Regions from separate parts of the Homo sapiens genome. Here region 1 is linked to region 2. Evidence: fine-mapped expression QTL. A gene starts in region 2. The other region holds a variant in brackets. All regions are shown on one strand. Distances are from middle to middle.

Region 1 (5,372 bases), 22 kb after region 2:
CCGTGGACTGCTTCACAGCTGCCCTCAGCGTTCGTCCCAATGTGAGCCCAGGGGAGGAATGGAAATGGGACATGACTGTGTACCTTATTGAAGAGCCATTTGTTGGGAAGCTGGGTTTGATGGTGCATGCCTGTAGTCCCAGCTACTTGGGAGGCTGAAGTGGGAGGATCACTTGAGCCTGGGAGTTCAAATCCAGCCTGGGCAACATAGCAAGACCCTGCCCACCCCCACAAAAAAGAATAATTTGTTCAGACTTTTGGAGTCTTGGGGTATTTCATTCCAGTGTTCCATGTACTGACTGCCTTGGGAGGACTGGGAAAAGAAGGCTGGGAGTGTAGGGTCATCTGGACATAAGAGAGTCTGCATAGGGTGAGAGGGGCTACATTGTAGCCACACACCGAACTGTTGAGAATGGAATGGGACGAAACATGTTAGCTAACAGAGTAGTGAAACAGCTGGAGTAATGTGCAGAGTTTGAGCTGAGTCGGTGGAGTAATGTGCAGAGTTTGAGCTGAGTCAAGCTGTTCCCATCCGTTCTGCATCCCTATCCCAGGACTATTTGCTGTGGAATAAGCTAGGCGCCACCCTGGCCAATGGAAACCAGAGTGAAGAAGCAGTAGCTGCGTACCGCCGGGCCCTCGAGCTCCAGCCTGGCTATATCCGGTCCCGCTATAACCTGGGCATCAGCTGCATCAACCTCGGGGCTCACCGGTGAGAGTATCTATTGAGAAATGAATGAATGAGCTTTTTCTCCCTGCCTTTGGCCCTAGCTCCTTATTCTTAGATCCTGTTTGACTAACCAGCCCTAGCTTTCTCCCTCCCACTGCTAGCTGACCTGCTTCCTTCCATTGTTGTTCAGCTTAACAGCTCTCATTCCTCTTCTTCCTTACAGGGAGGCTGTGGAGCACTTTCTGGAGGCCCTGAACATGCAGAGGAAAAGCCGGGGCCCCCGGGGTGAAGGAGGTGCCATGTCGGAGAACATCTGGAGCACCCTGCGTTTGGCATTGTCTATGTTAGGCCAGAGCGATGCCTATGGGGCAGCCGACGCGCGGGATCTGTCCACCCTCCTAACTATGTTTGGCCTGCCCCAGTGACAGTGGGACGGGCTGCCCTGTGAGTGTCCACCTGGAGGGATCCCCGCTTTGGATGTGATTCCCTCTCCCCAAATGGGCCTACCAAGGGGGCGGGCTGATGACCATAAGCGGTACGGCCTTTCAGGAGCTGCCTCAACGTAGGGGTGGGTAGTCTGTGTTCTAGTTCCTACATAATTGTAGGAAAATGAGCTGTGTCATCTCTGAGTCCCTTGGTAATTCAAGGGCTGTACATCCAGCTACAGATCTCTCTGCTCATCATGCCCTTTCTTGGTGCTGCTTTTTGGGTAGGACCCCACGATTTAGGGTAACTGTTATCATCAGCTGCCATTTCTGATAGGGTCTACCACATCTGTAATGTCTGTCCTTTCCCCCACTTTTACTGGGAATTGATAGTCCAGCTTCCTTGGGCAGTGTAAGTAGGAGGTTCATCTGCTGTGCGCCTCTAATGTCTGTCTGGATGGGATGTGTTAGGAGTTGGCCTGTTGGGTTGAATTGTTGATTTGGCTGAGCAGAGCTGAGTTTTGGTAGGAGTGCTCATGGTTCTGTCATTCTTGGACCTCTCCTGGCTGAGCTCTGATTCCCTGTGAGCACGATGCTGATGCAATAGTCCTGTGTCATCACTGCAGCGGTCCTCAGGAGCTGCCAGGGCCAATTGCTACAGAGTGTCTGGGTGTGTGGCATAGGAGGAAGGTTTGCTTGTGAAATGAGGCTGGGTGGGAGCGGGGAGGGACTAGATCAGAAGAGATCAAGGGCTCTATTCAGGAACGTTGGTGGGAGGACAGAGCAAGTGGGAAGGGGGTATGGTGAGTGCGGCAATCCCTCATCCTCTTAGAAGCACCTGTGAATGGGAATTGAGCCAACTGTTATAGAAAATTGGTTCAGAAAGTGCAATCTTGCCAGATTTCTAGCAAATAGGTTCAGTGTTACCATAAGCCTTTGCTGTACTTCTTGAAATGTTTCTAGGGGAGAGCATTGGAAAATCCCCTTCCCCCATCTAGATCGAAGGAAGATGAGGGAGCAGCTTGGATTCTTCTCAGTTGTCCCCTGCATGGGGAGATACACTAACCCCCAGAAATGACTGCTAAGCCTCTTGCCTTGTCTTTAGTAGCTAATGATCAGAGAGATTTTTTTTTTAAACTACCATGGTCCCAGGATTCCATCCTGAAATTTATTTTTCTTTGTATGAATATGTGTAAATGATTTAAAAATAAAACTGTAAAATATTTGTACGAAGAATAAATGGAACTGATGTGGGTATGAGTTCTGCTGGTCATGAAGCTGGGATGGCAGAAGGTGAGTTGGCGTTTGGAGGACTGGGATTCAACAGTTTCTGCCTTTCAAATTCTCACTGGTATATTGGTTACCTGCTCATCCCTCTAAAAATGATAGAGCACAGGAGACAGGGTCCCTGTTCTCTGGGCCTCTGGGCTAGCAGGAGAAAGAGATGTCGATAATCATGAATTTTTACTCCTGTTACTACTACAAAGGAAAGTGTGCAGTGCCATATAATTGTTAGGTTGTTTTGTATTATGAATTACATGGAAGGATTTTGATAGTTTTTCAGTGCTTAGGGTTTCTAAAGCTTTTCATCTGGCTCTGCCTGCCTTTATCGGGAACTGTATCAAGTGCCATATCAAGATGGGTATTTATCCTGAGGAAAAATTTAAAAATATACACAAATATTTATACTTGGAGATAGATGTTTGTGGGCACATTAGACTTGGAAAAAAAATTTTTTTTTTTTTGTTTTTTTTTTTTTAAGGCAGTGTTTCACTCTTTTTGCCCAGGCTGGAGTGCAATGGCGTGATCTCAGCTCACTGCAGCCTCCGCCTCCTGGGTTCAAGCGATTCTCCTGCCTCAGCTTCCTAAGTAGATGGGATTACAGGCATGTGCCACCACGCCCAGCTAATTTTGTATTTTTATTAGAGACAGGGTTTCATCATGTTGGTCAGGCTGGTCTCGAACGCCCGACCTCAGGCAATCCACCCACCTCGGCCTCCCAAAGTGCTGGGATTACAGACGTGAGCCAC[C/T]GTGCCCAGCCAAAAAAAAGTCTAACTTTTAAATTTATTTAAAAAGTTTTTCAAATAGAGACTAGATCTCACTATGTTGACCAGGCTGGTCTTGAACTCCTGGCCTCAAGGAATCCTGCCTCAGCCTCCCAAAGTTCTGGGATCACAGGGAGGAGCACCATACCTGGCCAAAGTCTAATTTTTTTTTTCCGGTGAGCTCAAAAGCTGCCAGAAAAAAAAAAAAAAAAAAAAAAAACCCAAAAAACAAAAAAAACAGGTCTAAAAGACAACTGGGTAAGTAAATTGTCCAGACAGTGAAATATAGCTATTGCTATTTAATCATTTATGGAATAATTTCCAGTGACAATAGATGCTAACAATATAGTGAGAAAAATGGTTGGTCAATTATTTACAGATTGTCTTAAGAAAAAAATGCATTGAAAAGACAATAGGGAACTATCCCAATGTGCTAAAAGTGGGGAGATCATACTTCTCTGTAATTCTCAAATTTTCTTGGTGCATGTTTGATACTTTTCTAGAGGAGAAAATTAAACACCTGGGGGAGGAAAACAGGAAGCTGTTGTGGCACCTGTCACCACCTGGGGGATCACGAGGCAGCTGGTGTCTTGGGCTCTGCAGGTTGGTGGTGCAAAGACCCAGGCGGGAAGTGGGCTGGGCAGGTGGAGGAGCAGTTTCCACACTACATAGGTGCAGGACATGACAAAGTCTGGCTGTGTAAATGACTTAAGAATTAAGCTATAAAATACCTAGGAATCCAACTTACAAGGGATGTGAAGGACCTCTTCAAGGAGAACTACAAACCAGTGCTCAAGGAAATAAAAGAGGATACAAACAAATGGAAGAACATTCCATGCTCATGGGTAGGAAGAATCAATATTGTGAAAATGGCCATACTGCCCAAGGTAATTTACAGATTCAATGCCATCCCCATCAAGCTACCAATGACTTTCTTCACAGAATTGGAAAAAACTACTTTAAAGTTCATATGGAACCAAAAAAGAGCCCACATCACCAAGTCAATCCTAAGCCAAAAGAACAAAGCTGGAGGCATCACACTACCTGACTTCTTCAAACTATACTACAAGGCTACAGTAACCAAAACAGCATGGTACTGGTACCAAAACAGAGATATAGATCAATGGAACAGAACAGAGCCCTCAGAAATAACACCGCATATCTACAACTATCTGATCTTTGACAAACCTGACAAAAGCAATGGGGAAAGGATTCCCTATTTAATAAATGGTGCAGGGAAAACTGGCTAGCCATATGTAGAAAGCTGAAACTGGATCCCTTCCTTACACCTTATACAAAAATCAATTCAAGATGGATTAAAGACTTACATGTTAGACCTAAAACCATAAAAACCCTAGAAGAAAACCTAGGCATTACCATTCAGGACATAGGCATGGGCAAGGACTTCATGTCTAAAACACCAAAAGCAATGGCAACAAAAGACAAAATTGACAAATGGGATCTAATTAAACTAAAGAGCTTCTGCACAGCAAAAGAAACTACCAACAGAGTGAACAGGCAACCTACAAAATGGGAGAAAATTTTCGCAACCTACTCATCTGACAAAGGGCTAATATCCAGAATCTACAATGAACTCAAACAAATTTACAAGAAAAAAACAACCCCATCAAAAAGTGGGCGAAGGACATGAACAGACACTTTTCAAAAGAAGACATTTATGCAGCCAAAAAACACATGAAAAAATGCTCACCATCACTGGCCATCAGAGAAATGCAAATCAAAACCACAATGAGATACCATCTCACACCAGTTAGAATGGCAGTCATTAAAAAGTCAGGAAACAACAGGTGCTGGACAGGATGTGGAGAAATAGGAACACTTTTACACTGTTGGTGGGACTGTAAACTAGTTCAACCATTGTGGAAGTCAGTGTGGTGATTCCTCAGGGATCTAGAACTAGAAATACCATTTGACCCAGCCATCCCATTACTGGGTATATTCCCAAAGGACTACAAATCATGCTGCTATAAAGACGCACACGTATGTTTATTGCGGCACTATTCACAATAGCAAAGACTTGGAACCAACCCAAATGTCCAACAACGATAGACTGGATTAAGAAAATGTGGCACATATACACCATGGAATACTATGCAGCCGTAAAAAATGATGAGTTCATGTCCTTTGTAGGGACATGGATGAAATTGGAAATCATTCTCAGTAAACTATCACAAGAACAAAAAACCAAACACTGCATGTTCTCACTCATAGG
Region 2 (5,372 bases):
GTTTAAGAGCATGGACTCTGGAATAAGACTGTGTAGGTCAAAGATCCACAAACTATGGCCTGGTCCCTGTTTTTCCATAGTCTGCAAGCTAAGAAGTATTTGACGTTTTTTGGCTGGGCACGGTGGGTCACATCTGTAATCCCAGCACTTCAGGAGGCCAAGGGGGGTGGATCATCTGAAGTCAGGTGTTTGAGACCAGCCTGACCAACATGGTGAAACCCCATCTCTACTAAAAATACGAAAATTAGCTGGGCATGGTGGCATGTGCCTGTAGTCCCAGCTACTCGGGAGGCTGAGGCAGGAGAATCACTTGAACCTAGGAGGTAGAGGTTGTAGTGAGCCGAGATTGCGCCACTGCATGCCGGCCTGGGTGACAGAACAAGACTGTCTCAAAACAAATAAGTATTTGACATTTTTAAATAGTTGGAAAAACATCAAAAGAAGAAGAATATTTTGTAACATGAAAATTATATAAAATTCACATTTCAGTCCCCATAAAAAGCATTACTGGAATACAGCCATGCTCATTTGTTTAGGTGTGGCCTATGTCTGCTTTTGTGCTCCAACAGCAGGGTTGAGTCACTGTGACAGAGACTGCATGGACTACAAAGCCAAAAATATTGACCATTGAGCCCTTTACAGTTTGGTGACCGTGGTCTGGGTTCAAATCCCAGCTCTGCTATTTATTAGTATGACCTTGTGCAAGTCACTCAACTTCTCTGTGCCTCAGTTTCCTCTTTTGTAAAATGGGGGATAATAGTTATTATTAATAACTATTAGGAGGATTAAATAAATCAATAGTTGAAAAGTGCTTGAAACAATGCCTGGCACACAGTCAATGCAATGTGTGTCTAAACATCTATTGAACTTGAATTCGTCAAACATTAAAGAATAAGTAAAAATTATTTTTATTTTATAAAAATTACTACTTTTATGAATAGAACAAGAATTTAAAGTTGAACCTGGATTAACAAAATCTAGGGTTTCAAATCTAGAGCTTCAGTAAATTAAATATTAAACACCAAAGTCACTCTATTAGCCCTTTCCCAGCACCTCTGGCTGGGACTGTGGACCAAGTTCTGTGAATGATTCTATGGCCTAGGAGATCAAAGATCTCCATGGTTTATCAGTAAGTCTTCTCTAAGACTGGGAAGTAGGTGCCTAGAGTTATGCCTGGATTAAATTTTGACTTCCTAGCCATCTGATTTTGCACAAGTCTTATCTGTAAAGTGGGTCTACTAATATCTATTTAATAGGGGTATTAAGAAGATTAAAAACATTGAGATACATAAAGTGTTTTACACAACACCTGGATTTTAGTAAACATCAGTTATTATTATTAGCATTCTTCCAAGATCTGCACACAAAGTGAGTTACGGCTAATCAGTTGATAAACTCCTAGCAGAGCAGAAGGTTATGTGTGTTGTGATGTTTAAGTGGTACTGGGAAACTCTGGTTGCCTTGAGGTTCTGAAATTCTACTGTATCAGATGGGTTCCTTTAAACATTGCTCTCTCTAGGGGGTCCTCTTTTTAAAAGTATGCACCTTCTGGAGGGCATCTCTTCATCCTTGTGTGGTTTAGTTTATCAGGTATTTTCCTCACGATGGCAGCCTGAGAACAGGGGACGCCCAAGGGCTGGGATTTGTGTGCTCCGGAAGAAAACGGGGTGTAGAAGTGGGGCCTCTGAAAGAGGGCGAAAAGGCAAGGAAAAGGAGAAATGTTGCACAGTCTTATGGTCTGTCCCCTGCCATTCTGTTCCCCTGAGGTGTCAGAGCAGCTTCTCTGTCTTCCCAGGGATGAGTTTACACAGACATTCCCTGTGGCCCCCTGAGGCCTCCACCTCTGAAATCTGCAGAACAGCCAGGAAACAAGCCCGGCCCATGGCGCCACCTGCTGCCTGCCTGCCTCCGCTCATGCACCCTGGGCTGGGATGGTACTTCTGTTCGTCTGGCATTATTGCCCTTGGTCATTTACCGGCAGCCCTGGGCCCCTCCTTGCTCTTCTCCATGACACTAGGACTCCCTTGGTCTTGAAGCTGGGTGAGATTATCAGGGTTTGTTTCTCAATGACTTTGAGGTTTGACAGCAGAGCACACTCTTTGGCAGATGAGGGGGCTTGAGGCTTAGTCTTATTCCGTGATTAAAAGCATTTCTTGTATGTTTGTCCTTTCCCAGCCTGGAGTGATGGGAATAAGGCCACTATGTTGACTTAGCGGAAGGAAGGGCTGACTCACTGTTCACCTTCCCTGTACGTTACCAGCTCGAGGTCTCAGGATGCGTTGGACCCTATTTTGGTCTCCGGAATTTGTCATCATGCAGTGCTATTTTCCCCATTATGCAGAGGTGGAGAGGGATTAAGGCGGGGGCGGGCCCCTGTCTCCATGGAGACAGTGACGCTACCCCGCTAGGGGTTATTTGGAAGCGGGGCAGGCCTAGGAGGCTGAAGAAGGCTTCGGACTGGACTCCCCAGCCCCTGGTGTTAGGGCTTTTCTCTTTCTTGGGCTTGGGAACATTAGCCAGCCCCATTTTAGAGGGGAAAACTGAGGCTCAGAAAGGGCACTGAATCCCCTTAGGTCACAATGCGCCCAAGGGAAGAGGCAGGATCGACTGAGCCTAGGATCTCGCGTCTTCGGCTTTCCCCCAGAGCCTGGGAAGCCCTTCTTAGCTCCACTCTTCTTTGAGCTTTCCGTCAAACAAATCCTAGGGCCCGTGGCCTTTTCGAGCGCTCCTAAAGGCGACTCTCCAAGACCCGCTCTCTAAGGTGCTCTTCCCCTTTAAGACTCACGGCTCTTCCCGTCAGGCTGCGTCGCAGTCTTAAGGCCCCGCCTTTTCAGACAGCTTCCGCTGGGCCTGGGCCGCTGCGGGGCGGTCACGGCCCCTTTAAGCCTGAGCCCCGCCCCCTGGCTCCCCGCCCCCTCTTCTCCCCTCCCCCAAGCCAGCACCTGGTGCCCCGGCGGGTCGTGCGGCGCGGCGCTCCGCGGTGAGCGCCTGACCCCGAGGGGGCCCGGGGCCGCGTCCCTGGGCCCTCCCCACCCTTGCGGTGGCCTCGCGGGTCCCAGGGGCGGGGCTGGAGCGGCAGCAGGGCCGGGGAGATGGGCGGTGGGGAGCGCGGGAGGGACCGGGCCGAGCCGGGGGAAGGGCTCCGGTGACTTAAGGGGAGGGAATGCTCCTCTGCCGTGCTCACCGCGTGCTGGGGCTGCGCGGGGCTAGGTATGGTCGGGCTGTTTTCCCACTGTCCCTTCTTCGGGCAGTGTCGCCGTCCAGCCTGGTTGTTGAAGCGTCCCCGTGGTCCCCCGGGGTCCAGGCCCCTTTGTGGAGGCAGCTGCTGGCCCCCAGCCCATGGGACCGTAGTCGCGGAGGCCTCTGCAGAGGCGCAGGCTGGAAGCGGTGGCCTTTGAGGGGGGCGGCAGGAGAGAGTACCGACCTCCCTCGAACTCCTGGCAGAGGTGGGGGTCGCAGCAAAAGCACTGGGGTGGAGGGCGGCCAGTGTGGGGCAGACGCCTGTGTGCCTTCCTCAGATACGGGCAGAGTTGTGGATGTGAGAAGGGTCTGGCTTGGGTACCTCAGTTCCAAACCTCCTGTGTCCATCAGAGAGCTGGCGGTCACCATGGCAATGCGGGAGCTGGTGGAGGCCGAATGCGGGGGTGCCAACCCGCTCATGAAGCTCGCCGGGCACTTCACCCAGGACAAGGCCCTTCGGCAGGAGGGATTGAGGCCTGGCCCCTGGCCCCCCGGAGCCCCGGCCTCTGAGGCAGTGAGTGTTCTTGAGGTGGAAAGCCCAGGTGCAGCCTCTGAGGCAGTGAGTGTTCTTGAGGTGGAAAGCCCAGGTGCAGCCTCTGAGGCAGTGAGTGTTCTTGAGGTGGAAAGCCCAGGTGGTGGTGGTCTGAGGTGGAGGGGCTGTTTGCACATCTTGGTATAACTGCTTTCTCTATTGTGTTGCAAATCATAGTAGTTACCACTTACTGAGCGTTTATAAACACTAGAAAACCCTGTGCACCTTTAAATAAATGCAACCATTTTATAGATGAAGAAGCCGAGGCTCAGATGCCTATGGGCTTCATCAACCCCTGATTTTAGAGGAACTGCGTCATTGTACATCTCTGTCTTTCTCTCTTAGGCCTCCAAGCCTTTGGGAGTAGCTTCTGAAGATGAGGTAAATAGACCAGTCTCTTTTCTGTCCCATTTTTCTCTTGCCCACTGTGTTTTTACCTTTAAACTTAGTTCACCCGTATTTCAATTTTTGGGCTTTCCTGACCGAATGAGAATGCCTGCTTGTTTTTAAATGTATTTTTTCGTCCTTCTAAATCTATGGAAAGACAGTTTCTCTTTATGTGTCTCCAGTTTCTGTGTTTTCCTTTCCTTGTATCTAACATTGGGATCCCCCTCCAGTGGGTCCTGCCTCTTGCTGGGGCCTCCCAAGCCTATGGGTTCATTTCATCATTTCCCTTCTGGCAGTTGGTGGCTGAATTCCTGCAGGACCAGAATGCACCCCTTGTGTCCCGTGCCCCTCAGACCTTCAAGATGGATGACCTCCTGGCTGAGATGCAGCAGATTGAGCAGTCAAACTTCCGCCAGGCTCCCCAGAGAGGTGAGTCCAGAGTCTAGTGGGAGGGGAGATCGTTTTCCATGTAGCCAGGGCCAAGGAAGGGGGTTCCATTGGATGCTGCTGGCATTGGGGACCTGAGATGCAGAAGGAGACAAAAGTAACAGAGTGTTTTCACGTGGATTCAGGGTTCTTTAGGCATGATGGAATGGTATGTATGTATTCTTTCTTAGTTTTCTCTCTCTCTCTTTTAAGCCCCTGGTGTGGCAGACTTGGCCTTGTCTGAGAACTGGGCCCAGGAGTTTCTTGCAGCTGGAGATGCTGTGGATGTAACTCAGGATTATAATGAGACTGACTGGTCCCAAGAATTCATCTCTGAAGTTACAGGTGAAACTTGTTATGGGAAAATCTATATTGGCTTCTATGGGACAGAATTCTATACCCTTCCCCTGTTCACGTTATAGTGTGATTACGATTTTTCTGGTCTCATGACTCATTTCTAGAGGGGTAGGGTACTGAACTCAATTTCCCTTAGGTGATAACGGAATGTAATGTATATTAAAGAGAGGACTGGGTTTGTACTGGATAAGAGATTTTGGATAGAGAGAACGAAGAGTTTGGTTGGCCTTTTTACTTTATCACTGTGGTTTAGTGGAGAGGATCTACAGATTGGATGGATGGCAGTGTTGCCGAGGAAGAGAGTATTCACTACAGCACCTGGGATTCTGGCCTTAAGTTATTTGGAACAGAATTGGGGCCTTCAGAGTGTTATTGTGAAGTTCCAGTGCCTGAAGTGTATGGCTTTAGAAGGTAAAGACCATACCATGAT

What was found. PIP is the estimated chance that this variant, and not a neighbour inherited with it, causes the effect.
Region 1: its variant is the best candidate, but not a certain one, in a credible set for the expression of PEX5 in skeletal muscle (GTEx, PIP 0.82).

The regions. Positions count from the first base shown.
Region 1 is chr12:7,209,130-7,214,501 of GRCh38, forward strand. PEX5 (peroxisomal biogenesis factor 5) reads left to right here. Exons shown (of 16, transcript NM_001351132.2): 14 at 1-41; 15 at 554-711; 16 at 893-2,330. The coding sequence ends at 1,094. Among named protein-coding and RNA genes, the nearest start is that of PEX5, 22 kb to the left of the region's middle. The variant C/T (reference allele first, on the strand shown) is at 3,125.
Region 2 is chr12:7,186,771-7,192,142 of GRCh38, forward strand. PEX5 (peroxisomal biogenesis factor 5) reads left to right here and starts at 2,916. Exons shown (of 16, transcript NM_001351132.2): 1 at 2,916-2,980; 2 at 3,592-3,754; 3 at 4,118-4,153; 4 at 4,456-4,588; 5 at 4,799-4,930. The coding sequence starts at 3,608. RefSeq lists enhancers at 1,401-1,902, 1,903-2,402, 2,713-2,772, 2,773-3,489, 3,483-3,632 and 2 more and silencers at 1,813-1,862, 2,883-3,292.